Homo sapiens: one gene and its partners. The protein of the gene in region 3 purifies or fractionates together with the protein of the main gene of each other region. This does not show direct contact. Each region holds a gene or a part of one and is shown on either strand. Other genes may lie near its edges. The genes, in order: TXNDC5, ARIH1, ANKMY2, AARS1, PLD2, KLHL26 and PBDC1.

Region 1 (3,500 bases), on a different chromosome or scaffold from region 3:
ATGTCAGCAAACGGGGGTAAAAATACTATTTCAACACCTAAGACCCGTCAGAGAGCAGCTAAGGTGCGGAACTGAAGTACAAGAGGCCTCAGCCCAAGGTCGGGAGAGGACAAGCATTTTTAAGGGTCCAGTGTAACCCAGCCACATGTGCCAGGGATGAAGGGCTTCAGCGTGGTCACCTGGGCTTGTGTCTGCTCACGCCTAGGTCTGCTAGGATCCTCTATGGATATAAACCTAAAAGAATCTCCCATAAAATTTCATACAATAATTAAGTAAGGATACAAGGAATGGGGTAAGACAGTAGACAAGATTATTTTATAATTACTTCCCCGAAATGTTCAATAAATATAAACTGATAATAACATGTATAATTAGTATATATTATCGTAAGCGTTTAAGAGGCAACAGTGAAATATCCATTTAACTGACAACAAAAGTGATTACAATTTACCAAGCATCTGCCCCATGCTAAGCATCACACTAAGCAGTGTACTTTCATCTGCCCAGACACCACACAGTAGATCTTAGCTCAGTTTTGCAAAGGGGGAGACCGAGGCGTGGAGAGGTTTTTCCCAAGGTCAGCCAGCCAGGTCTACCCAACCCCCAAGTTTATGCTTTTGACCATCTCACCATCCCAAGTAGATCATCCTGTTAACCATCATTCAGTCCTAGACACGCAGCATTACTTTTGGATACAAATCAGCCCCATGGCAAGGTAGAAAAATGAGATTTTTAAGAAAGGAAATCTATGCATGGTGTCTGGTGGGTGCTGGAAAGTGTAGAAGAATAAAAGTGATGTCCCTGGAGCTACACTGGATATTTCCAGAAAATCCAGTTACACAGAAGTTGTCAGACACCACTCTTGGCTTCTCTGTATAAAGTAGGAAATGCTGGAAAGAATCCCAGGCACAGTGCAAACTGAGGGAGGGTCTTCTGCGTGCTTGGGGGAGCACAGAGCCAGGGTCCTTTTAGAGAGAGCTCTTGGGTGAGGTCGAACGTGGACGGTCTCCAAGTTCGTCCAGTGAACATTCTACAAGGCTCTACCCCATCTCTTTGCAGAACGGGCTCTGGGGCTGCCAATTCAGATTTGGCCATCTCTTCAAAATAAACAAAGCAGCCGAGGCCATAATTTATCTCTAGGCTGTGGAAAAGCCAGCAAAACTCAAAATCAGACTGCCATCTGTGAAGGTGAAATGAATTATCAAGTGGCACACTAAATGGAATTAATAAATCAAGTTTGCGACTTTGCACACGGAATGAATAATGGGCCACTCTGCTAATTAATCCAGCCCAAAGCAGTCCATTTCCAGTTTAATAAGGGCTTTCACTCACCTTGCCAATCTTGACAGTTTCGGAATGTTCAAGGCCCAGAGCCAGCTGCTCCCAGGTTGGAGCCAGGGCTTTGCAGTGACCACACCACGGAGCGAAGAACTTGATAAAGTGGTCGCCTGGAGTGGAGAGCCAAGGCAGAGACGGGGGAAAGAGGAACTGTAATTTATGTCAGACCTCACTAGAGAGTTAATTGAAGAATCAGATCTTTGTCCTGCTTAGCAAATCTTAGTTCGGCATGAGCACTTTAATTGGTACAAAGGGACTCCATCAAATGTGTTTCTGTTCATGACTTCATAACAATACTCAAAACCAAATTTGTCATCTTTGATGGACAATCAGCAATCAACTCATTATTTGGAAAACTGTAATAAAAGGAAAGAATCAGGCATTTCTCCCACCTCTCCTATATGCACTGTACCGCTGAATAACCAGGTGATAAATGAGGGTGAGTTTCTCTTGGTTAAAAAATGAAGGGACGCTTGAATGAGCCTCGGCACTTGGCAGCCCTAAGGAATGGACGGACCCAGGCTCTGCCTGTCATGGTCGACCACATCCCAAAGAGAGACAACTGGACGTTCTGTGCCCCCACCAGCTATGAGGTCTTCTTGTGCCCCCAAAAAACATCACACTGAAACTGATTTTGTCCCCAGACCCAACTACCAATTTCCAGGAAACAGAGAAATCAGGGAAACATGTAGACCACACTACGGGGACACAATTAGCAAAGTCTGGACCACGGGGAGCTCTACAGGTCAAACCACCTATGTCTTCAGCAAGAAAGATAAAGAGATGTCTGGAGAACATGCAGGTTAAAAGAGCCTTAAAAGATATATAAACACATACACATATAGAACTATAGTGCTCAGGAATGTGCACTTCAGTGCACATAAAGGAGTTGATATGGTTTGGCTGTGTCCCCACCCAAATCTCATCTTGAATTCCCACATGTCGTGGGAGGGACCAGGTAGGAGGTAACTGAGTCACGGGGACAGGTCTTTCCCATGCTGGTCTCGTGATAGTGAATAAGTCTCATGAGATCTGATGGTTTTAAAAACGGGAGTTTCCCTACACAAGCTCTTTTTGCCTGCTGATATCCATATAAGATGTGACTTGCTCCTCCTTGCCTTCCACCATGATTGTGAGGCTTCGCCAGCCACGTGGAACTGTGAGTTCTCCATTAAACCTCTTTCCTTTGTAAATTGCCCAGTCTCGGGTGTGTATTCATCAGCAGTGAAAACGGACTAATACAAGTGGTTTCCACAAATGTCAGGCAAGTGCCTTCTTGGAGAAGGGAGGGCGGGCTGTGCCCTGCATGGGACACGGGAAGCTGGCAGTTTTATTTCTTGAACTGGACAGTAGTTACAGTGTGACCACGCTATAAAAATTCATTAAGCCCTACATTTGTTTTCTCGATCTGTATTATATTTTATCATAAAAAAAAGTTTAAAAAATGAAACATCACCCCCTTGGCTACGGGGAAAAAAACAAACAAACCCTCACAGCATCATTATTTGGACACAGAAGGTGTTTAGCTGTTCTACCCTGACATTGGGCTGATACCAAACTGAAAGCAGGCTGTGGCCGGGGAGAGAACTAACCAGTGGCATGTGGCCTGGCGTCTGAGCAGGACTCTGCCACACTAAGGCTCACAGCTACTGTCTCATCAGCACAGCAACAATGCACTTGAAGAAAATGGTGAAAAACTTCCTTTAAAAGTTAACAACTTCCATTAAAAAATGTGCAAAGCTGAAACCATGTGCAGGTGCACAGTAGATCCTGCACTGTAAGGTGGAGACAGGCTCTCTGGGAACCTAATCAGAGTACTGATGGGAAGCCAGCAAGGGCAGGAAGCCACCATGGTACCTACACGACACAGCTGTGTGGCAGTGACCCACTTAGGGAGGCGCTGGCTAGGCCTGCCGGAGTCGGTCTGTCCTGCCGGAGTCGGTCCGTAACAGGTGATTTGGGAAACACACCCTGCTCAGAGCCCAAGACAATCCCAGCTGAAAATGCATTCCCGTAGCGGAAAGCATGCTAGAGTTCTGCCGTCAGGGCGCTGGTATGGATGAAATAACTTTTAGCAAAAGTGGGAAAAGGCTGAAGGCCTCACGATAAGTTACTGTGGACAGTAAGTGTGGTGGGGGAGGGGCTCTGACTCCCAGCAGGCA
Region 2 (3,500 bases), on a different chromosome or scaffold from region 3:
AGAATTTACTTATGTAACCAAATACCACCTCTTCCCCAATAACCTAGGGAAATAAAATTTTTTGGAAAAAAGAATATGTGGGATTTTTGCATTATTTCTTGTAACTGCATGTGAATCTACAATTTTCTTTTCTTTTCTTCTTTTTTTTTTTTTTTTTTGATGGAGTTTCACTCTTGTTGCCCAGGCTGGAGTGCAATGGCATAATCTTGGCTCACTGCAACCTCTGTCTCCTGGGTTCAAGTGATTCTCCTGCCTCAGCCTCCCGAGTAGCTGGGATTACAGGCGCCCACCACCATGCCCGGCTAATTTTTGTATTTTTTTAGTAGAGACGGGGTTTCGCCATTTGGCCAGGCTGGTCTCGAACTCCTGACTTCAGGTGATCCGCCTGCCTCGGCCTCCCAAAGTGCTGGGATTACAGGCGTGAGCCACCATGCCCGGCTGTGAATCTACAATTTTCTATTTTAAAAACAGTAATGAAAAAAATCCCCAGGTGATTCCATTACGTAGCTAGAGTTAAAAAAAAAAAAAATCAGTAAACTGGAGAATCTCAAATTCCTACCAATTCTGAGACTACAAGCTATTTTAAACTTAAGCCACTGAAAGGTTATTAGGAATGTTTATCATTTACAGGTATAATGTTTTGCAAAGCCAAAAGTAATTAATTTACGGTTAATCCAAAATAAAAAATCCAAAACACTATGTTCTCCCAATAGCATACAAAAAGATTGGATAGAAAGGCATTATACAATAGCTGTAATTTACCTCTTAACAGAGAGAGACAGAGACAAACAGCCGGCCTCTAAGATAGCCCCCAAAGACCCCTGCCTCCTGGTCTTCACATCTTTGTATAATCCCCTCCGATTGAGTATGGGCTGGATTTGGTTATTCACTTACAACAAATAGAATATTGCAAAGTGATGCGACGTTACTTCTGAAATTAAGTTATAAAAACTTTGTGGCTTCCATCGTATGGGCCTTTTCTCTAAGATCCCTCACTCTGGAGGAAACAAGCTACTGTGTTGTCAGCCACTTTATGGAGAGGCCCACATGGCAAGGAACTGATATCTCTGGGCAACAACCAGCCAGTGAAAATCTGGCCTGGTCACAGCCAAATGAGTGAGCTCGGAAGGGGAAGCTTCCCCAGTCAAGCCTTGAGGACTGCTACCCAGGCCAGACACGGTGGCTCATGCCTGTAATCCCAGCACTTTAGGAGGCTAAGGCGGGCAGATCCCTTGAATTAAGGTGTTCAAGAGCAGCCTAGGCAACATGGCAAAACAAAAAAATACTGGTCTCTACCAAAAAACCCACAAAAACAAAAAAATAAGCTGGGGTGTGGTGGTGCACATCTATAGTCCCAACTACTCAGGAGGCTGAGGTAAGAGGATCACTTGGACTCAAGAGGTGAGGGTTGCAATGAGCCGAGATTATGCCATTGCACTCCAGCCTGGGCACCACAGCAAGCCTCTGTCTTTAAAAAAAAAAAAAAAAAAGAGAGAGAGAGAACTGCTACCAAGCCGTCACCTTGGTTGCAGCCTTGTAAGAGACCATAAGCCAGAGGCCCCCAGGTAAGCTGCATCCAGAATTGTGACTCACAGAAACTATGATATAACAGATCCTTGTTTTTTTAAGCCACTAAGTTTTGGGGTAACATAAGGCAAAAGATAACCAATCTACATAGTTACCACAGGTCAACCCCAAAAGAATCTAATGTGATGACTTCTGCTTACCTTTCATCACAGTATTTAATCTCCCAGGTTCTACATTATTATCCAGCATTTATAAGCTCCATTCTACTTTAGCTGATTTCACCATTACCCAAAAACTCTCCTCATTCTCACCTCATTCAGTTCCTTAGAATGACTTCCTCTTTTTTATCCACCCAAATCCTAGCCATCTTTGACAACACCTACAGAGGTCTCTTCCATGAGTATCTATTACTATCCACTTATTTAAATTACTCACTAACCTAACAGCTTTAACTCTAAGAGATTCTCAACTCCTTAAGAATAAGTCTTCTCATATTCCTTTAAACAGGACTTTATATCTATCCAGGACTTTATATCTCTTCCAGCATACTAATAAATTAGAAAACTCAACATTCTATATTAAAAAAATCTAGGACTGGAAGGGAAATCAAGAACTCCAATCTAGAATGTCAGATGTCACTAGTTTAGTTTGTCTATTTGAAAATACTGGCCGGGTGCAGTGGCTCATGCCTGTAATCCCAGCACTTTGGGAGGCCAAGTCGGGTGGATCACCTGAGGTCAGGAGTTCGAGATCAGCCTGGCCAACATGGTGAAACCCCGTCTCTACCAAAAATACAAAATTAGCCGGGCGTAGTGGTGGGCGCCTGTAATCCCAGCTACTCGGGAGGCTGAAGGAGGAGAATCGCTTGAACCCAGCAGGCGAAGGTTGCAGTGAGCCGAGATGGCGCCACTGCACCCCAGCCTGGGCAAGAGAGAAAAGACTCTGTCTCCAAAAAAGAAAAGAAAAGAAAAGAAAATACTGAGTAAAGACCACCTTAGCTGAAGGATAGCATAGCATGAAGGATAGCATCTACGATGACAAACATCTTCCAACCCTATGATTAGCCTAGTAAACGTTGCCTAGGTTCTGGAAATTTTCCCATTATTACCTTTTTTTTGAAGTAGAGTCTCCCTCTGTCACCCAGGCTAGAGTGCAGTGACACTATCTCAGCTCACTGCAACCTCCAATTCCCAGGTTCAAGCAATTCTCCTGCCTCAAGTCTCCCAAGTAGCTGGGATTACAGGCACAGGCCACCACGCCCAGCTAGTGTTTCACCATATTGGCCAGGCTGGTCTCAAACTCCTGACCTCAAGTGATCTGCCTGGCACAGTCCCCAAAGTGCTGGGATTACAGGTGTGAGCCACCGTGACTGGTCCCCTATTATTAGTTTCTTAAACAATTTATCTTCCCTCATTAACCCACCTCTGTAGTAATCTATCACTACACGTAACACATAGAGAAACACTGCTATTAAATTTCAACTACATCAGCAGTTCTCAAACTTTAGCTTGCATCACCATCACCTAGAAGGCTTGTTAAAACAGACAGCCAGACCCCATCCCCAGAGTTTGATTCATAGGACTACTGCCATAGCAATTCAACAAGTCAGTGTAATTTAAACTTACAGCTCAAGGAGATCAGCTGGGAAAATATAAAAGTCCAAAAGAAATAAATCTAAACTATATCAAACACTTTAATAACTTCAAAACACATGTGCCTGCACACATCATGCACAGGCTTGTACACCCTCTTCCTCCTCTCCCAATTAATGAACATAACCACAATATGCACACCTGAATTCAATTTCTTGGAAAAAATGAACATCTCCAATTAACTGAGGTTTTTAAAATGATGTTAAACGAATAAAACACTTAATGTAAAAAAGGACCAACCTAGTATTTCAACTCCCTCATTTTCAGTCCCAGATTAAAAACAAAACAAGGCCGGGCAAGGTGGCTCACTGTGATCCCAGA
Region 3 (3,500 bases):
ACAAGTAAGTGTAAAAGATTAATTGCTTTATTCTGGGAAATAAATATGTTAAATCTGATTTAACAAACTGCTGGGGGTGGAAGATAGAGTACTATAAGAAGGGATGTGCAAGGAGCCAACATTTACCTTCATTGGAGATAAGAAACAACAGACCTAAACTAATTAAAGTAATAATTAGTGATTTATTTCCCTTTAGAGAATTCCTCCAACTGCTCAAACCAAAGAAGAAAATACAGCATAACCTGCCTCATTAGGGTGGAATTGATCACTTTATCTGGATGAACAAGCATTTTAGGAGAGAAAAGATTATGTACATAATATTTTCCCAGCATGGACAACATAGTGAGACCCCATCTCTACAAAAAATTTTCTAAAAAATTAGCAAGGTGTGGTGGCATGGACCTGTAGTCCCAGCTACTCAGGAGGCTGAGGTGGGAGGATTGCTTGAGCCCAGGAAGTTGAGGCTGCAGTGAGCTATGATCATGCCACTGTAATCCAGCCTAGGCAATAAAGTGAGACCCTGTCTCAAAAGAGAATGATATTCTTAGTGTTACTGCTCTCTCTTCTACTACATTATAGCTTTTTCAGGAATACTATAAAGTGGAACAAGACCTGCAAAACTTGGCCAGGCATGGTGGCTCACACCTGTAATCACAGCACTTTGGGAGGCCAAGGCGGATGGATCACCTGAGGTCAGGAGTTTGAGACCAGCCTGGCCAACATGGTGAAACCCCATCTCTACTAAAAAAAAAAATACAAAAATTAGCCAGGTGTAGTGGTGCGTGCTCGTAGTCCTAGCTACTCAGGAGGTTGAGACAGGAGAATTGCTTGAACCCAGGAGGAGGAGGTTGCAGTGAGTCAAGATCGCGCCACTGCACTCCAGCTTGGGCGACAAGAGCGAGACTCTGTCTCAAAAAAATAAGTAAATAAATAAATAAAAGTAAATAAAAAGACCTGTAAAACTCTCAGTTTCCTTATCTATGAAATAAGGATAACAATATCCATCCCACAGTTATCTGAGGAGTGTCCTAATGTGGAGCACATATAAGCCTTTATTAGATCTTCTTTTTATTTTGTATTCAGAGCAGCACAATATAATTCATTGTAACATTTCTAATATCTAGATCGGGAACACGGGTCTCTACCAAAGACAAGAAGATGCAGCCAAAACAAACAGAACAGGAGAAACAAACATTCTGTTTTCAGCAATTCATCACACAACCATGAGATTCAAACACGTATAGATTTCAATCGTTATTCATTATTATTGTTTTAATTTTTTATAGATACAGGGCCTTCCTCCATCGCCCAAGCTGGAGTGCAGTGGCATGATCATGGCTCACTGCAGCCTTGAATTCCTGGGTTCAAGCAATCCTCCTGCCTCAGACTCTTGAGGTGCTAGGACTACAGGTGCACGCCACCGCACCCAGCTAATTTTTACATTTTTTGTAACAACGGGGTCTCACTATATTGAGACCCAGGCTGGTGGCAAACTCCTGGGTCCAAGTGATCCTCTTGGATCCTCCCAAAGTGCAGAGGGGTCACTCTACAGGCATGAGCCACTATGTCCAGCTGGATTGCAATCATTATTTATTGGAAGCCACGAAAACGGATATTTTAAGGAATATATAATCAAGTTAAGGATTTAGAAATCTATTTGGCTTTGTTAGTTGTTATAGTGTTTACGTATAAGTAAAATCATGTAAAAATGTTTAAAGTGCCTTAATTTTAAAACAAGAACATATGGATATAGATTTTGATATAATCATAGATATAAAGCTATAAATATATTTTAAAAGTGAAACCCCATCTCTACTAAAAAGACAAAAATTAGCCGGGCGCGGTGGTGCACGCCTGTAATCCCAGCTACTCAGTAGGCTGAGGCAGGAGAATTGCTTGAACTTGGGAGGCAGAGGTTGCAGTGAGCCGAGAGCGCACCATTGCATTCCAGCCTGGGTGACAGGGTGAGACCCTGTCTCACACACAGACACACACACACACACACATAGTGGAGACTTCTAATTATAACATGCATTTTGAAATCGTGAATTTGTGCGATGTTTCTAAAAGGTCTCCTACTCATATCTATTTTTAGACTTTGTAAAAAAATGATCTTAAATTAGTATTACAGAGCACTGTATAAAATTGGGAGTATCTAAAAGAGCTGTTGCTGTGAAAATGAAGACAATGAAGCCCATATAGGTTGCATAACCTGTCCAGCCATCCAACTAATGGTAACCATATATTTTAATTTTTTCTTTGAACTCTGTACTATAATTGGTTATAAGCAGACTTGAATGTTTCTCAACCATAAAGACACCAGAAGTATTATTAACGACACAGGACCTTAGAACAGGATCTTATTTCAATAGTCCCAAATTGGAAACAACAATTGGGCATCAATGGGAATGGATGCACAAATAGTAGTATATCCTTCCACTGGAAATAAAAGAAGAAAATAAGCTACATACTATTGGTACACATAATAAATATGAACCCCAAAATCATAATGTTGAATGAAAGAAGCCAGCCCCCCCTCAAAAAAAGGATACTTATTGTATGATTCTACTAATATAAAATTCTAGAATAGAGAAATCTAATCAACAGAGGCAGAGATCTGTTAGTGGTTGCCTGCAGATGGGGGTGAAGTTAGTGACAGATCACAAAGAGGCATAAGGACTTTTTAGGGGGTGATGAAGATGTTCATTATGTTGATCTTACTGATGGTTTCACAGATGTATGTTTAAATCAAAACTGATTAAAAAGTGTGTACTACCTGTAATATGTGCAATTTATTGTATCTCAATAGTTGGTAAGAAAAAGCCTTATTATCCAAACTTGTTTCATAGCTCCTTTACACAGATATGAAAAAAAAAAAGGAAGTATAATACTTTCTTGTTAGCAACAGTAAGCCCAGGAATTTCAGGTACTAAATAAGAGAAGTAATGTGAAAATTATCTAGCTCATAGCCTTAAAAAAGGTTTAATTTATTTCATAATAGTGCTTGCTCTGAGATTAATGAAAAAGGTATCAAAGCTTAGAAGAATGGGTAACTCTACAAGTCATATAAGCCAGTTAAACACAGTTCAGTGATTTCAATTTCCTCTTACATACTGTTAAATGAATGCTGTCATTAACTATGATTTAAATGGGTATGTTGGAAACAGATTTTCATTTTCATCTGGAACTTCTTGGCATTCTAATAAATAAAAAGCCCCACTTAGAGTCTGTCTTTCTGGAGAGCAGTGGCTGGCAGATGGGAATCACTTAAATATTTGCCGAGTTTATTTCAGATTGACCAAGATGCCAGGCTAGACTTTGCTGAAAAGTTGTTAGTTCAAAGTACTAGAACTTATTGTCTCATCTAGAGTTTTTCAAAGTTGAAAAACGTATGAAAGAAAAAAAAAAAAACTCACTTCACCCACTTTAAAAAAAATGCCTCTTTTTGGCACAAATATAAACTTTGCTTATGGCCTTTCTTCAACTATAAAATAAAAATT
Region 4 (3,500 bases), on a different chromosome or scaffold from region 3:
AACACCTTCCAACCCAGCACCACTTGGCTGCAGACTGAGCATGAGTTTCCTTCCATTAAAGTCTTTGAAGTGCTTTTTCCCCTAGATCAGTGGTTCTCAAGTGGGGGCGAGTCTGCCTTCCAGGGAGTAATTGGCGATAATGTCTGAAGACATTTTTGATTTTCACAACTAGGGGCAGATCCTGCTGTCACGTACTTGGTAGAGGCCAGGGTGCCCCTCAGCATCCCACACTGCAAGAGAAGTTTCCACAACAGAGAATGATCTGGCCCCAAATGTCAGTAGTGCCAGGATTGAAAAACCCTGTTCTGGCAGTTTATGCTGGGCATAGTTTAGCAAGTTCCAGTCCTTTGGAGTCCCTTTTCTCCTACTTTACGGTAACTTATGCTTGTTTCTCTTGCTGACAGCTGAAATCACAGGGCAAGGGAGCTGGTGGGGAAGACCTCATTATGCTGGACATTTACGCTATCGAAGAGCTCCGGGCACGGGGTCTGGAGGTCACAGATGATTCCCCAAAGTACAATTACCATTTGGACTCCAGTGGTAGCTATGGTATGTTGCTGTGCTCCTTCCACATCTGAGCATTCTGCCCCGTATCTGGGGGGTATTTGAAAGATTGTTTCTCAAGATTAGCTCTCCAGCAGACTGCTGACAGCCTCTCCTGGAGTGCCGTACAGTCACGCTATGCACTTTTATACACATAGGCACCCTTGGCTGGAGGTTTTCTTAACTCTATTTTGAAATAATTATTGTCACAGGAAGTTGTAAAAAAAAAAAATTTGTAGGAAGGGTCTCACACCCTTTTATCCAGTTTCCCCTAATTGTAACATCATGCAGGAAACTGGGCAATTGACATTGATACAATCCACAGTGACTATCAGAATGCTATTAGGGGCCTGGCGCTGTGCCTCACACCTGTAATCCCAACACTTTGGGAGGCCGGGGCAGGTGGATCACCTAAGGTCAGGAGTTTGAGACCAGCCTGACCAACATGATGAAACCCCATCTCTACTAAAAATACGGAAATTAGCCGGGCGTGGTGGCGTGCCCCTGTAATCCCAGCTACTCGGGAGGCTGAGGCAGGAGAATCGCCTGAACCTGGGAGGCAGAGGTTGCAGTGAGCCAAGATCATGCCATTGCACTCCAGCCTGGACAACAAGAGTGAAATTCCGTCTCGGGGAAAAAGAAAAAGAATGCTATTAGGATTCTATTATCCTAATGCTGTTAGAATGCTATTATCCTAATAGCATTCTTTTTTTTTTCTGAGATGGAATCTCCCTCTGTTGCCCAGGCTGGAGTGCAATAGTGTGATCTCGGCTCACTGCAACCTCCACCTCCTGGGTTCAAGCGATTCTCCGGCCTCAGCCTCCCAAGTAGCTGGGATTACAGCCACGCACCACCACACCCGGCTGATTTTTGTGTTTTTAGTAGAGACAGGGTTTCACCATGTTTGCCAGGCAGGTCTCAAACTCCTGACCTCATGATCTGCCTGCCTTGGCCTCCCAAAGTGCTGGGATTACAGGCGTAAGCCATCTCGCCCGACCGGATAATAGTATTCTAAAGTTAAGAAACAAAGCCAGTGCAATGACTCATGCCTGTAATCCCAGCACTTCGGGATGCCAGGGTGGGCTGATCAGTTGAGCTCTGGTGTTTGAGACCAGTCTGGGCAACATGGCGAAACCCTGTCTCTACCAGAAATACAAAAATTAGCTAGGTGTGGTGGCGCATGCCTGTAGTCCCAGCTATTTGTGGGGCTGAGGCAGGAGGATCACTTGAGCCTGGGAGATTGAGAGGCTGCAGTCAGCCATATTTGTGCCACTGCACTCCAGCCTGGGCTACAGAGTGAGACCCTGTCTCAAAAAAAACATAAAAATAAATTGGCAATACATGTTTTTGCAGCTTTTTTGCCCTGGTAGAGAACAATCTTTTTTTTTTTTTTGAGATGGAGTTTCGCTCTGTCACCCAGGCTGGAGTGCAGTGGCGCATTCTCGGCTCACTGCAACTTCTGCCTCCCAGCTTGAAGTGATTCTCCTGCCTCAGCCTCCCAATTAACTGGGATTACAGGCATGTGCCACCACACCTGGCTAATTTTTGTATTGTAGTGGACACGGGGTTTCACCGTGTTGGCCAGGCTGGTCTCAAACTGCTGAGCTCAGGTTATCCACCCGTCTCAGCCTCACAAAGTGCCAGGATGACAGGTGTGAGCCACCGTGCCCGGCTGAGAACAATCTTACACCTAAATCTATTCAAGCAAGCCTACAAAATGAGTACATTCTTTGTGAGTTGACCTTGGACTAGGGAATTTATTACTACTCTTAAAGATCTACTAATCTGATGCACCAAGTTTCTGTTCAGTAGCTCAGAGTTAGGGTAACCCATTGTCCCAGTTTTAACACTGAAGCCTGCATCCCAGGAAACCCCTCAGTCCTAAAAATTGGGACAGTTGGTCACCCGACAGAGTGTTGCATTCTTTGATGGAAAGCCAGCATGCGAAGCCCTTTGTTGTTGTTGTTTTTTTTTTTTTTTTTTTTTTTTTTTTTTTGAGACCGAGTCTTGCTTTGTCACCCAGGCTGGAGTGGAGTGGCACAATCTCGGCTCACTGCAAGCTCCGCCTCCTGGGTTCACGCCATTCTTCTGCCTCAGCCTCCTGAGTAGCTGGGACTACAGGTGCCCGCCACCACACCCGGCTAATGTTTTGTATTTTTGGTAGAGACAGGGTTTCAGCGTGTTAGCCAGGATGGTCTCGATCTCTTGACCCCGTGATCCGCCTGCCTCGACCTCCCAAAGTGCTGGGATTATAGGGGGAGCCACCGCGCCCGGCCGCGAAGCCCTTTCATATTGTCTAATGAGTTTGCTTCCAAAATACAATTGGACAATTAGGAGCTAAGAAGAGTTTGCGAAAGAGAATCCAGCAAAAGTCAGCCAAGAAGGAGTGAAAAGGTCATTGACCCCACTGTCCCCTTTCTATGCATTTCCCTTGAGCAGTATTTGAGAACACAGTGGCTACGGTGATGGCTCTGCGCAGGGAGAAGATGTTCGTGGAAGAGGTGTCCACAGGCCAGGAGTGTGGAGTGGTGCTGGACAAGACCTGTTTCTATGCTGAGCAAGGAGGCCAGATCTATGACGAAGGCTACCTGGTGAAGGTGGATGACAGCAGTGAAGATGTGAGCCAACAGTTCTTCCTTGTTAGCCGAGGAGGGCCAGGCGTGGAGCCGGGGAGCTGCTTTTGCCCCACAGTGCTCCAGGCCTTGGGAGCAGACCTGACACACCTTTGGGTTGGGTTCCATGGTATTTCTGAAGCCGAGGGAGCTGTTGCTTGTACCTGTTGCTTTCCTGGCCATCGGGTACCCTCGTAGGAGTATTTTTGCAGCCAGGGTACAAGTTTCCTACAAGCTTTGCACATTAAAAAGGAGAGGCAGCTCTCTGAAGGGGAGATGTCCTTGTAGAAAACTCAGCCTCGAGCTCTGCCGCTGCTGAATGAGTTACTTTGTCTCCCTAGGCTT
Region 5 (3,500 bases), on a different chromosome or scaffold from region 3:
ATAGTTTTGAACCAGGAACTGGTCTAGCCAGATGCTTGGGACTGCTCTTAGACTGGGCCCAGAGAAAGGGGATTAGTAGAAGCCTGGGAAGGGAACTGCTGACATAAACGAAATTCCATTTGTTCATTTGTTCATTCAACAAACCCGAGTGCCTGGTACAATACTGGTTGCTGATGCAATACTAGGATCCAACTATGAGTAAGGTGGATATGGCCGGGCGCGGTGGCTCACACCTACAATCCCAGCACTTTGGGAGGCCGAGGCGGGTGGATCACCTGAGGTCAGGAGTTCGAGACCAGCCCAGCCAACATGCTAAAACCTTGTCTCTACTAAAAATACAAAAATTAGCCGGGCGTGGTGGTGCGTGCCTGTAATCCCAGCTATTTGGGAGGCTGAGGCAGGAGAATCGCTTGAAGCTGGGGTGCAGAGGTTGCAGTGAGCAGAGATCGCACCACTGCACTCCAGCCTGGGGGACAAGAGCTAAACTCTGTCTCAAAAATAAATAAATAAATAAGGCAGATACATACACGCCCTATCCCTGTGCAGTTGTGATTAGGGACTAAGGGAGGAAGTGGGAAAGGGGAGGTCTCTAGGCAAGATCACAGGTATGGAGGGCGAGGATTTATGGACATCTCATCGTTCCCATCCAGGTCCTTGATTCTCAAGTGCAGCAGCTACCGGCAGGCACGGTGGTGGGCCCAAGAGATCACTGAGCTGGCACAGGGCCCAGGCAGAGACTTCCTACAGCTGCACCGGCATGACAGCTACGCCCCACCCCGGCCTGGGACCTTGGCCCGGTGGTGAGACACTGACATCCCTTCTGAGCTTGTCTGTGGCTTTCTTGACCCCCTGTGTAATCTCTGAGTCCTTCATCCTCTCTTTTCTCATCTGAACCCTCCTGACCTCAATGACCCGCCCCGTGACTTCTTTAATCTTCCTGACCTTTGACATCTTTAACCACATTGATCTCTCTGATTTCGCGCCGACCTTTCTGACCCCCAAACTTGGTCATCTCTTCTGACCCTTGACCTCTCTAACCTCCTATAACCTTTTAAACCCCTCTCTACAATACTGACCCTCTCTGTTCTCCATGATCTTCTCAAATCTCTCTGATTTAGTCCTTCATTTAATAAACATTTTCTTTTCTTTTTTTTTTTTTTTTTTTTTGAGAGAGAGTTTTGTTCTGTTGATCTCGGCTCACTGCAACCTCCGCCTCCCAGGTTCAAGCGATTCTTCTGCCTCAGCCTCCCGAGTAGCCGGGATTACAGGCGCCCACCACCACACCTGGCTAATTTTTGTATTTTTAGTAGAGACGGGGGTTTCACCATGTTGGCCAGGCTCTTCTCGAACTCCTGACCTCGGGTGATCCGCCCGCCTCGGCCTCCCGAAGTGCTGGGATTACAGGCGTGAGCCACCGTGCCCAGCCTTAATAAACATTTTTCTAAGCACCTAGCAGTGCTGGCAGTAACACACAGTCCTCTCTGGGTTAGGGAAGTAGGTGATCAAATCGTGAAACAATGTGAACTTGCCGTACTGGTGATAGGTAGAAGGTGACACGCACAGACAGGAAGTACCTGGCCCAGCAGGGATATCAGGACAGGTTTCCAGGAGGTGGTGACCCTCAGGTAGTTTTGCTTTAAATCAGAGACTGACACAATATTAATTTTGTTGGTTTTTGTTGGAGACAGTGTCTTGCTCTGTCACCAGGCGTGTAGTGCAGTAGTGTGATCATGGCTCACGGCAACTTCAACCTCCCAGGCTCAAATCATCCTCCTGCCTCAGCCTCCCAAGTAGCTGAGACTACAGACACATGCCACCACACCCGGCTAATTAAAAACATTTTTTTTTACAAAAAATTTTAAAAATTAGACGGGTGTGGTCTCGAACTCCTGGGCTCAAGGGATCATCCTGCCTCGGCCTCCCCAAAGTGCTGGATTGCAGGCATGAGCGACAGTGCCTGGCCTATATACTTTTTTTTTTTTAAGGCAGAGTTTCGCTCTTGTTGCCCAGGCTAGCGTGCAGTGGCACAATCTCAGCTCACTGCAACCTCAGCCTCCCAGGTTCAAGGGATTCTCCTGCCTCAGCCTCCCAAGTAGCTGGGATCACAGGTGCATGCCACCACACCCAGCTAATTTTTGTTTTGGTTTTTTTTTTTTTTTTTTGAGATGGAGTCTGTCTCTGTCACCAGGCTGGAGTGCAGTGGCAGGATCCCACCTCACTGCAACCTCTGACTCCCCGGTTCAAGTGATTCTTCTGCCTCAGCCTCCTGAGTAGCTAGGATTACAGGCATATGCCACCATGTCCAGCTAATTTTTGTATTTTTAGTAGAGCCAGGGTTTCACCATGTTGGCCAGGATGGTCTCGATCTCCTGACTTCGTGATCTGCCCACCTCGGCCTCCCAAAGTGCTGGGATTACAGGCTTGAGCCACTGCACCTGGCTATAAACTTCTAAAACAGCCAAAACCAATCCACAGTGATGGAAATCAGATCAGCAGTTGCCTGTGGCAGGGTATGGGGAAATGATTGCCTATAGTGGGGCACACGAGGGAACATTCCAGGACGATAAAAATGTCCTATATTTTGATAGGACTGGTGATTGCGTGGGAACATACACTTGCTGATCCTCATGGAACTATACAAGATAAAGAAAATGCAGAACAGTCCAGGCACAGAAGACAGAAATAGCTCAGGGTGTTTGGGAACCACCAGGACATATTGTTGTTACTGAGTGAGGAGGAGCAGTCAGAGGAGAAGCTGGGAGTCAGTGGCACCTGATCTCACAGGGTCCCATGTGCTAATATCACAGGCACACAGGGCAGTCATGGAAGGAAGTTTTGTTTGTTCGTTTGTTTTGTTTTGGTTTGGTTTGGTTTTTGAGATGGAGTCTGGCTCTGTCGCCCAAGCTGGAGTGCAGTGGCGCGATACCAGCTCACTGCAGTCTCTGCCCCCTGGGTTCAAGCGATTCTCCTGCCTCGGCCTCCTGAGTAGCTGGGATTACAGGCGTGCACCACTATGCTCAGCTGATTTTTGTATTTTTAGTAGAGATAGGATTTCACCATGTTGGCCAGGCTGGTCACGAACTCCTGACCTTAAGTGATCCACCCGCTTCGGCTTCCCAAAGGGCTGGGATTACAGGCATGAGCCACCTTGCCCAGCCTTCCTGCATATTTTCACATGTGCATGCACGTGTTACTTTTGTTTCAACATAAATGAGATCATGCAACCTCTTCTGTGACTTATTTTTTCACTTAATACCTGTGTGAGAGATTAGACACTTATATTATTTCCCATTTTTCACTCTTACAAACAATGTGATGAACACAACATTTGCCTAGGCATTGTATTAGATGTATTCCTAGACATGTAATTACCATGTATATTTAATGATATTAAAGGGTATATGCATTTAATATTTTGATACTGCTGACCAGTCGCTTTGGCTCATGCCTGTAATCCCAGCACTTTGGGAGGCCGAGGCGGGTAGATCATTGGGGTCAGG
Region 6 (3,500 bases), on a different chromosome or scaffold from region 3:
TAGCCTGGACAACAAGAGCAAAACTCTATCTCAAAAAAAAATAATAATAAGACCCCATCTCTATAAAATAATATATATATTTTTTAAGACAGTCTGGTTCTCTCGCCCAGGTGGGAGCGCAGTGGAGCGATCTCAGCTCACTGCAACCTCTGCCTCCCGGGTTCAAGTGATTCTCTTGCCTCAGCCTCCCGAGTAGCTGGGATTACAGGCACGTGCCACCAATCCTGGCTAATTTTTGTATTTTTAGTAGAGAAGCGGTTTCACCATGTTGGCTAGGCTGGTCTCAAACTCCTGACCTCAAGTGATCTGCCCACCTCGGCCTCCCAAAGTCCTAGGATTACAGGCATGAGCCACCGCGCCCGGCCCAAAACAATTTTTAAAAATTAGTCAGGTGTGGGCTAGGCACAGTGGCTCACGCCTGTAATCCCAACACTTTGGGAGGCCAAGGCAGGTGGATCACGAGGTCAGGAGATCAAGACCACCCTGGCCAACATGGTGAAACCCCGTCTCTATTAAAAATACAAAAATTATTTGGGCGTGGTGGCGTGCACTGGTAATCCCAGCTACTCAGGAGGCTGAGGCAGGAGAATCGCTTAAACCCAGGAGGTGGAGGTTGCAGTGAGTCCAGATTGTGCCACTGCACTCTAGCCTGGGCGACAGAATGAGACAATGTCTCAAAAAAAAAAAAATTAGGTGTGTTAGTAGATGCCTGTAGTCCCAGCTACTCGGGAGGCTGAAGCAGAAGGATAGCTTGAGCCCAGGAGGTCAAGAAGGCTGCAGGTAGCTACGACACTGCATGCCAGCATGGGCGACAGAGTGAGACTCTTCCTCAAACCAAACCAAACAAACAAACAAAAAACCACAAGCCGGGCGCAGTGGCTCACGCCTGTAATCCCAGCACTTTGGGAGGCCCAGGCAGGCAGATCACCTGAGGTCAGGAGTTCCAGACCAGCCTGGCCAACATGGAGAAACCCCACCTCTACTAAAAATACAAAATTAGCCAGGCTTGGTGGCAGGCGCCCGTAATCCCAGCTACTCGGGAGGCTGAGGTAAGAGAATCAGTTGCTTGAGCCCGGGAGGTGGAGGTTGCAGTGACCATGCCACTGCACTCCAGCCTGGGCAACAAAAGCGAAACTCCATCTCAAACACACACACACACACACACACACACACACACACACACACACACTAGGTGACTAGCAAAAGTGTCCTGGGGACTACTTGAGCTTGCATGGTCAGGCAGGTGGCTCTGAGGGGCCAGAACCTTGGAGAGTGGAAGGATGAAGAGGAAGGAGACGTGGGCAGGTTGAGGCGAGGAGGTGGGTCGTGCTCCAGGCCTGGCTGTCCCATTTGCAATAAATGAAGGAACAGACGAACAATGCTACAAAGACTCAATGTCTCAAAATGACTTTTGGGAGAATGTCTTGTACCAATCTCCCTCAAAATATGATCCATTTTCTGCATGCTCCATCTTGCCACATTAGGGGTTCTCCCCACACTAGCACCTGAGGCATGAGATGCCCCTATCAGTTGCTCCAAACAGTGATTTTTCACTAGGATGGAGGATAGGGGAGAATGACAAAGATGTCTTTTAAGAAAGAGGGCCGGGCATGGTGGCTCACGCCGTAATCCCAGCACTTTGGGAGGCTGAGGCGGGCAGATCACAAGGTCAAGAGATCGAGACCAGCCTGACCAACATGGAGAAACCCCGTCTCTACTAAAAATACAAAAATTAGCCGGGTGTGGTGGCACACGCCTGTAATCCCAGCTACTCGGGAGGCTGGGGCAGGAGAATTGCTTGAACCTGGGAGGCAGAGGTTGCAGTGAGCCAAGATCACGCCACTGCACTCTAGCCTGGGCAACAGAGCAAGCCTCCATCTCAAAAAAAAAAAAAAGAAAAAAGAAAAAGAGCCGGGTGTGGTGGCTCATGCCTCTAATCCCAGCACTTTGGGAGCCTGAGGCAGGCAGATCACCTGAGGTCAGGAGTTTGAGACCAGTCTAGCCAACATGGTGAAACCCCGTCTCCACTAAAAATACAAAAATTAGCCGGGTGTGGTAGCATGCACCTGTAATCCCAGCTACTCGGGAGGCTGAGACATGAAAATCGCTTGAACCCAAGAGGTGGAGGTTACAATGAGCTAGGATCGCACCACTGCACTCCAGCCTGGGCAACAAAGCGAGACTCAGTCTTAAAAAAAAAAAAAAAAAAAAGGCAACCCAACTTAAAAATGGCCCAAACATTTGAAAAGACACGTTACCAAAGAGATGAATAGCTAAGAAGCTCATGAAAAACTGTCCAACATCATTAGTTATTAGAGAAATGCAAATTAAAACCAAAATAAGACTGGGAACAGTGGTGTGCACACCTGTAATCCCACTTATTCCAGAGGCTGAGGCCCGAAGATTGCTTGAACCCAGGAGTTCCAGGGTGCAGTGAGCTAGGATCGCACCATCGCACTCCAGCCTGGGCGACAGAGTGAGACCTCATCTCACAAATAAATAAATAAATAAAAACACCAAATGAAGACACCAGCACACACCTATAAGAATGGCTAAAACTAAGGACTGGCCATACCAGGTGTTAGTGAGGATGAGGAGGAGCTGGAACTCTTGAACATTGCTGGTGGGGATGCAAAATGGTACAGCCACTTTGGGAACAAGCTTGGCAGTTTCCTAAAAATTAAAACATGGCCAGTCTCAGTGGCTCACACCTGTAATCCCAGCACTTTGGGAGGCCGAAGCAGGCGGATCCCCTGAGGTCAGGAGTTCAAGACCAGTCTGGCCAACATGGCAAAACCCCGTCTCTACTAAAAATACAAAAATTAGCTGAGTGTGGTGGCGCATCCTTACAATCCCAGCTACTCAGGAGGCTGAAGCAGGAGAATCACTTGAACCCAGGAGACAGAGGTTGCAGTGAACAACTGCTGGGCAACAGAGAGAGACTCCATCTCAAAAAAAAAAAAAAAAAAAAAAAAATTAAAACATAGCCAGGCGTAGTGGCTCACACCTGTAATCCCAGCACTTTGGGAGGCAGAGGTGGGAAGATTGCTTGAGCCCTGGAATTCAAGACCAGCCTGGGCAACATGGCAAGACTTTGTCTCAACAAAAGCACAGAAAAAATAGCTGGGTGTGGTGGCATACGCCCTTGTAGTACCTACCAGCTACTTGGAAGGCTGAGGTGGGAGGATCACCTGAGCCCAAGGAGGTAGAGGCTACAGTAAGCCGTGATTGCACCACTGCACTTCAGCCTGGGCAACAGAGTGAGACCCTGTCTCAAAAAAAAAGAAATTTAAACACATCTACCATATGAACTAGTCATTCTACTCTTAAGTATTTACCCAAGAGGATGAAAATATACGTCCACACAGAGACACATATCCAGATGTTCACAGCAACTTTATTTGCAGTTGTCAAAATGGAAACAACCCAACAGTCCATCAACCAGTTAATGGATAAACAAACTGTGTCCGTCCATACGAGATTGTATGGACGGACACAGT
Region 7 (2,753 bases), on a different chromosome or scaffold from region 3:
CTAAAAATACAAAAAATTAGCTGGGCATGGTGGCACGCACCTGTAGTCCCAGCTACTTGGGAGGCTGAGGCAGGAGAATCACTTGAACCCAGGAGGCCAAGGTTGCAGTGAGCCAAGATTGTGCCACTACACTCCAGCCTGGGAGTCAGAGTAAGACTCCATCTCCAAAAAAAAAAAAAAGGGGGTAGCTACTCTGTCTGGTTTTCCCTTTTTTTTTTTTTTTTTTTTGCTAGCTTTCAGGTAACATTCTGGCTACCAAAAGAAAAGCAAATACTGAAGCATGTCCAGTCTCTTGCTCTTCTAATATGAACTGGGCTGCATTCACTAGTTTGACAGGTTCAGGTTGCTGCTATTTATCAAATATTTTGTCATATATAGCAAAGAAATCAGGGAGTTATAGTCACTCAGAGATTAAGAGTCAATTCTTATGTAAGGACTTCTAATCCCAACACCAGGTATAACTTAACAAGTTTAGAGAACTTCACTACAGGAAACAGTGAGAAGCAGTAAGAAACAGGAGTAAATTATCTTATATAAGACATGGTGATGAGATTACATATTTGAAAAAAATTTCAAGTGTCAAATACCTTTTTAAAGTCAGTCACAGATATAGATAATAAGAACCAAAAGAAATTTATTTACAAATTTCTTACTTGACCAGTAGTGTCAGCCAAGAAACAGTATACCAGGAAAAATCAACTAACACCCCACTAACAGTCTTTAGACCAGTTCATACAAGGGAATGACCAGAGCAGCTCCTGACTGTTAGACTAGAAAGATGTCCTTCTGCGTATCCTTCAATTGTACAAGAATTTACATTTAACCAAAGGGGTCTGTGCAAGTAGCACCGTGGTACTTGTAGTCTCAATTGAGTCATAGCTTCTAGAGTGCTGTTCCCTGTATACCTTACATAGCTTTTTCACCACTTTTGTTGATTTCTTTGTCAGCTTCTTTCCCTTTTTCTCCTCCTTTGTCAGTTTTGTCTTCTCTGTTGATTCCTTCCTCTTTTTCTTCTCCACTATCAGCTCCTTTCTCTCCTCCATTCTTGGTGTTCTCTTCTTCTCCACTGTCAGCTCTTTTTTCTCCTCCATTGTTGACTCCTTTCTCTCCTTCTTTGTCCTGAACACTGATATAAACAGCTTTGTTATAGCCTTCCCGGTTCCGAGCAATTTCAATGGCAAAGAATTGTATCCTGGGGGCTGAAAAGTGAACAGAATTGATTATCATCCTACTCTCAGCTTATTCCCTAAATCTCTTTTTTTTGAGACAGGGTCTCACTCTGATGACCAGGGCTGGACTGCAGTGGCACAATCACAGCTTACTGCAGCCTCAATTTCCCTGGTTCAAGCAATCCTCCTGCCTCAATCTCCTGAATAGCTGGAACTACAAACACTCACCACTATACCTGGCTAATTTTTTAAACATTTTTGTAGAGATGGGGTCTCCCTATGTTGCCCAGGCTGGTCTCAAAATCCTCAGCTCAAGTGATCCTCCCATGTCAGCCTCCCAAAGTGCTGGTATTACAAGGCATGAGACACTGTGCCTGGCCTGTTCCCTAAATATGCTGGAAATCTACTGACAAAATTGAAATAACATGCAAACCATTCCAGTATAGTCATAAACTTCAGAGATCTTTAATTCCAATCTCATATTAATGAGATTGAAAATACTTAACTATCTTCAAGTTACATAAAAATAGCAACAAGATCTTTAAAGATGAAACAAGATAAGGTGACCTAACTATACACATCACTGATTCATCAGTAAAGCCAGACTGTTCAGTCTCCTTACACAGAAACAATTCCAGAGGGAAGAAACTCACCAAAGATGGTGTTTTCCTCAGTGTAGCCCTGAGAACAATCTAGTCGCAGCAAAGTACCATAGTTGAAGTCTTCAACAATCCCATTAAACTTCAAGCAGAATGGCCTCCACTTCTATAAAGGCAAAAACGATGCTTTAGCTGACAAATGCAAGAGGCTGACGTACTAAGGCCAGGAGAGGGACTTCCATTTTCCCAGTAAGGAAAATAATCATAGTGAGACTGGGATTGAGGTGATTGTTGGTTTCACAGTGAAACTAGCAATGCGTTTCTGTGCTACCTATTGTGTCTTTAGACTGCCATTTCCCAAGATGAACAATATTTTACTCTGAAAAATATATAAATCCTTTACTGCAGAATTAAAATATTATTTCTTAAGTCAATTGTTTTGTTTTGAAGTTATTGGTCAGTTCAGCCCAAAATGGTCATCTATCCCCACTAAAACACAAATGATTTTAATAAAGAAGTCCATTCAGTAGTGACAGTTTTCCAAAGACAAAGATCACTAACTGCCTGCTAGGAGTTAAAAGTGTAGTTTCTTGGCTGGGTGTGGTGGCTCACGCCTGCAATCCCAGCACTTTGAAAGACCGAGGCGGGCGGATCGCTTGAGCTCAGGAGTTTAAGACCAGCCTGGTCAACATGGTGAAACCCTGTCTCTACCAAAAATACAAAATATTAGCTGGGCATGGTAGCATGCACCTGCAGTCCCACCTACTAGGGAGGCTGAAGCAGGAGGACTGTTTGAGCTTGAGAGGCGGAGGTTGCAGTGAGCTGAGATGGCACCACCGCACTCCAGCCTGGGCAACAGAGTGAGACCCTGTATCAAAAAAAAAAAACCAAAAAACAAAAAACAAAACAAAACAAACAAACAAACAAAAACTTTAGATTCTTCATTAGCCAAGGGTTTACTCTCAAGGAAAACATTTTTTTCCTA

Evidence for each region.
Region 1: the proteins of ANKMY2 (region 3) and TXNDC5 fractionate together in Homo sapiens (co-fractionation; one large-scale study listed by BioGRID). This does not show direct contact.
Region 2: the proteins of ANKMY2 (region 3) and ARIH1 fractionate together in Homo sapiens (co-fractionation; one large-scale study listed by BioGRID). This does not show direct contact.
Region 4: the proteins of ANKMY2 (region 3) and AARS1 fractionate together in Homo sapiens (co-fractionation; one large-scale study listed by BioGRID). This does not show direct contact.
Region 5: the proteins of ANKMY2 (region 3) and PLD2 purify together in Homo sapiens (affinity purification with western blotting; one study listed by BioGRID). This does not show direct contact.
Region 6: the proteins of ANKMY2 (region 3) and KLHL26 purify together in Homo sapiens (affinity purification with mass spectrometry; 2 studies listed by BioGRID and IntAct, with this or other methods). This does not show direct contact.
Region 7: the proteins of ANKMY2 (region 3) and PBDC1 fractionate together in Homo sapiens (co-fractionation; one large-scale study listed by BioGRID). This does not show direct contact.

Annotation. Positions count from the first base shown.
Region 1 is NC_000006.12:7,890,289-7,893,788, forward strand, and holds part of TXNDC5 (thioredoxin domain-containing protein 5 isoform 1 precursor), read right to left. Parts: intron 1,449-3,500; coding exon 1,333-1,448; intron 1-1,332. UniProt on the Homo sapiens protein: Protein disulfide isomerase of the endoplasmic reticulum lumen involved in the formation of disulfide bonds in proteins. Can reduce insulin disulfide bonds.
Region 2 is NC_000015.10:72,480,830-72,484,329, reverse strand, and holds part of ARIH1 (E3 ubiquitin-protein ligase ARIH1), read right to left. Parts: intron 1-3,500. UniProt on the Homo sapiens protein: E3 ubiquitin-protein ligase, which catalyzes ubiquitination of target proteins together with ubiquitin-conjugating enzyme E2 UBE2L3.
Region 3 is NC_000007.14:16,639,255-16,642,754, forward strand, and holds part of ANKMY2 (ankyrin repeat and MYND domain-containing protein 2), read right to left. Parts: intron 1-3,500. UniProt on the Homo sapiens protein: May be involved in the trafficking of signaling proteins to the cilia.
Region 4 is NC_000016.10:70,262,007-70,265,506, reverse strand, and holds part of AARS1 (alanine--tRNA ligase, cytoplasmic), read left to right. Parts: intron 1-404; coding exon 405-549; intron 550-2,982; coding exon 2,983-3,161; intron 3,162-3,500. UniProt on the Homo sapiens protein: Catalyzes the attachment of alanine to tRNA(Ala) in a two-step reaction: alanine is first activated by ATP to form Ala-AMP and then transferred to the acceptor end of tRNA(Ala). Also edits incorrectly charged tRNA(Ala) via its editing domain.
Region 5 is NC_000017.11:4,810,152-4,813,651, forward strand, and holds part of PLD2 (phospholipase D2), read left to right. Parts: intron 1-650; coding exon 651-800; intron 801-3,500.
Region 6 is NC_000019.10:18,640,028-18,643,527, reverse strand, and holds part of KLHL26 (kelch-like protein 26), read right to left. Parts: intron 1-3,500. UniProt on the Homo sapiens protein: May play a role in endo(sarco)plasmic reticulum (ER/SR) mitochondrial signaling. May be part of the ubiquitin-proteasome system (UPS) and affect ubiquitination and degradation of target substrates in cardiomyocytes.
Region 7 is NC_000023.11:76,176,062-76,178,814, reverse strand, and holds the end of PBDC1 (protein PBDC1), read right to left. Parts: intron 1,935-2,753; coding exon 1,823-1,934; intron 1,200-1,822; coding exon 907-1,199; coding exon of another isoform or gene 798-906; 3' UTR 501-797; downstream 1-500.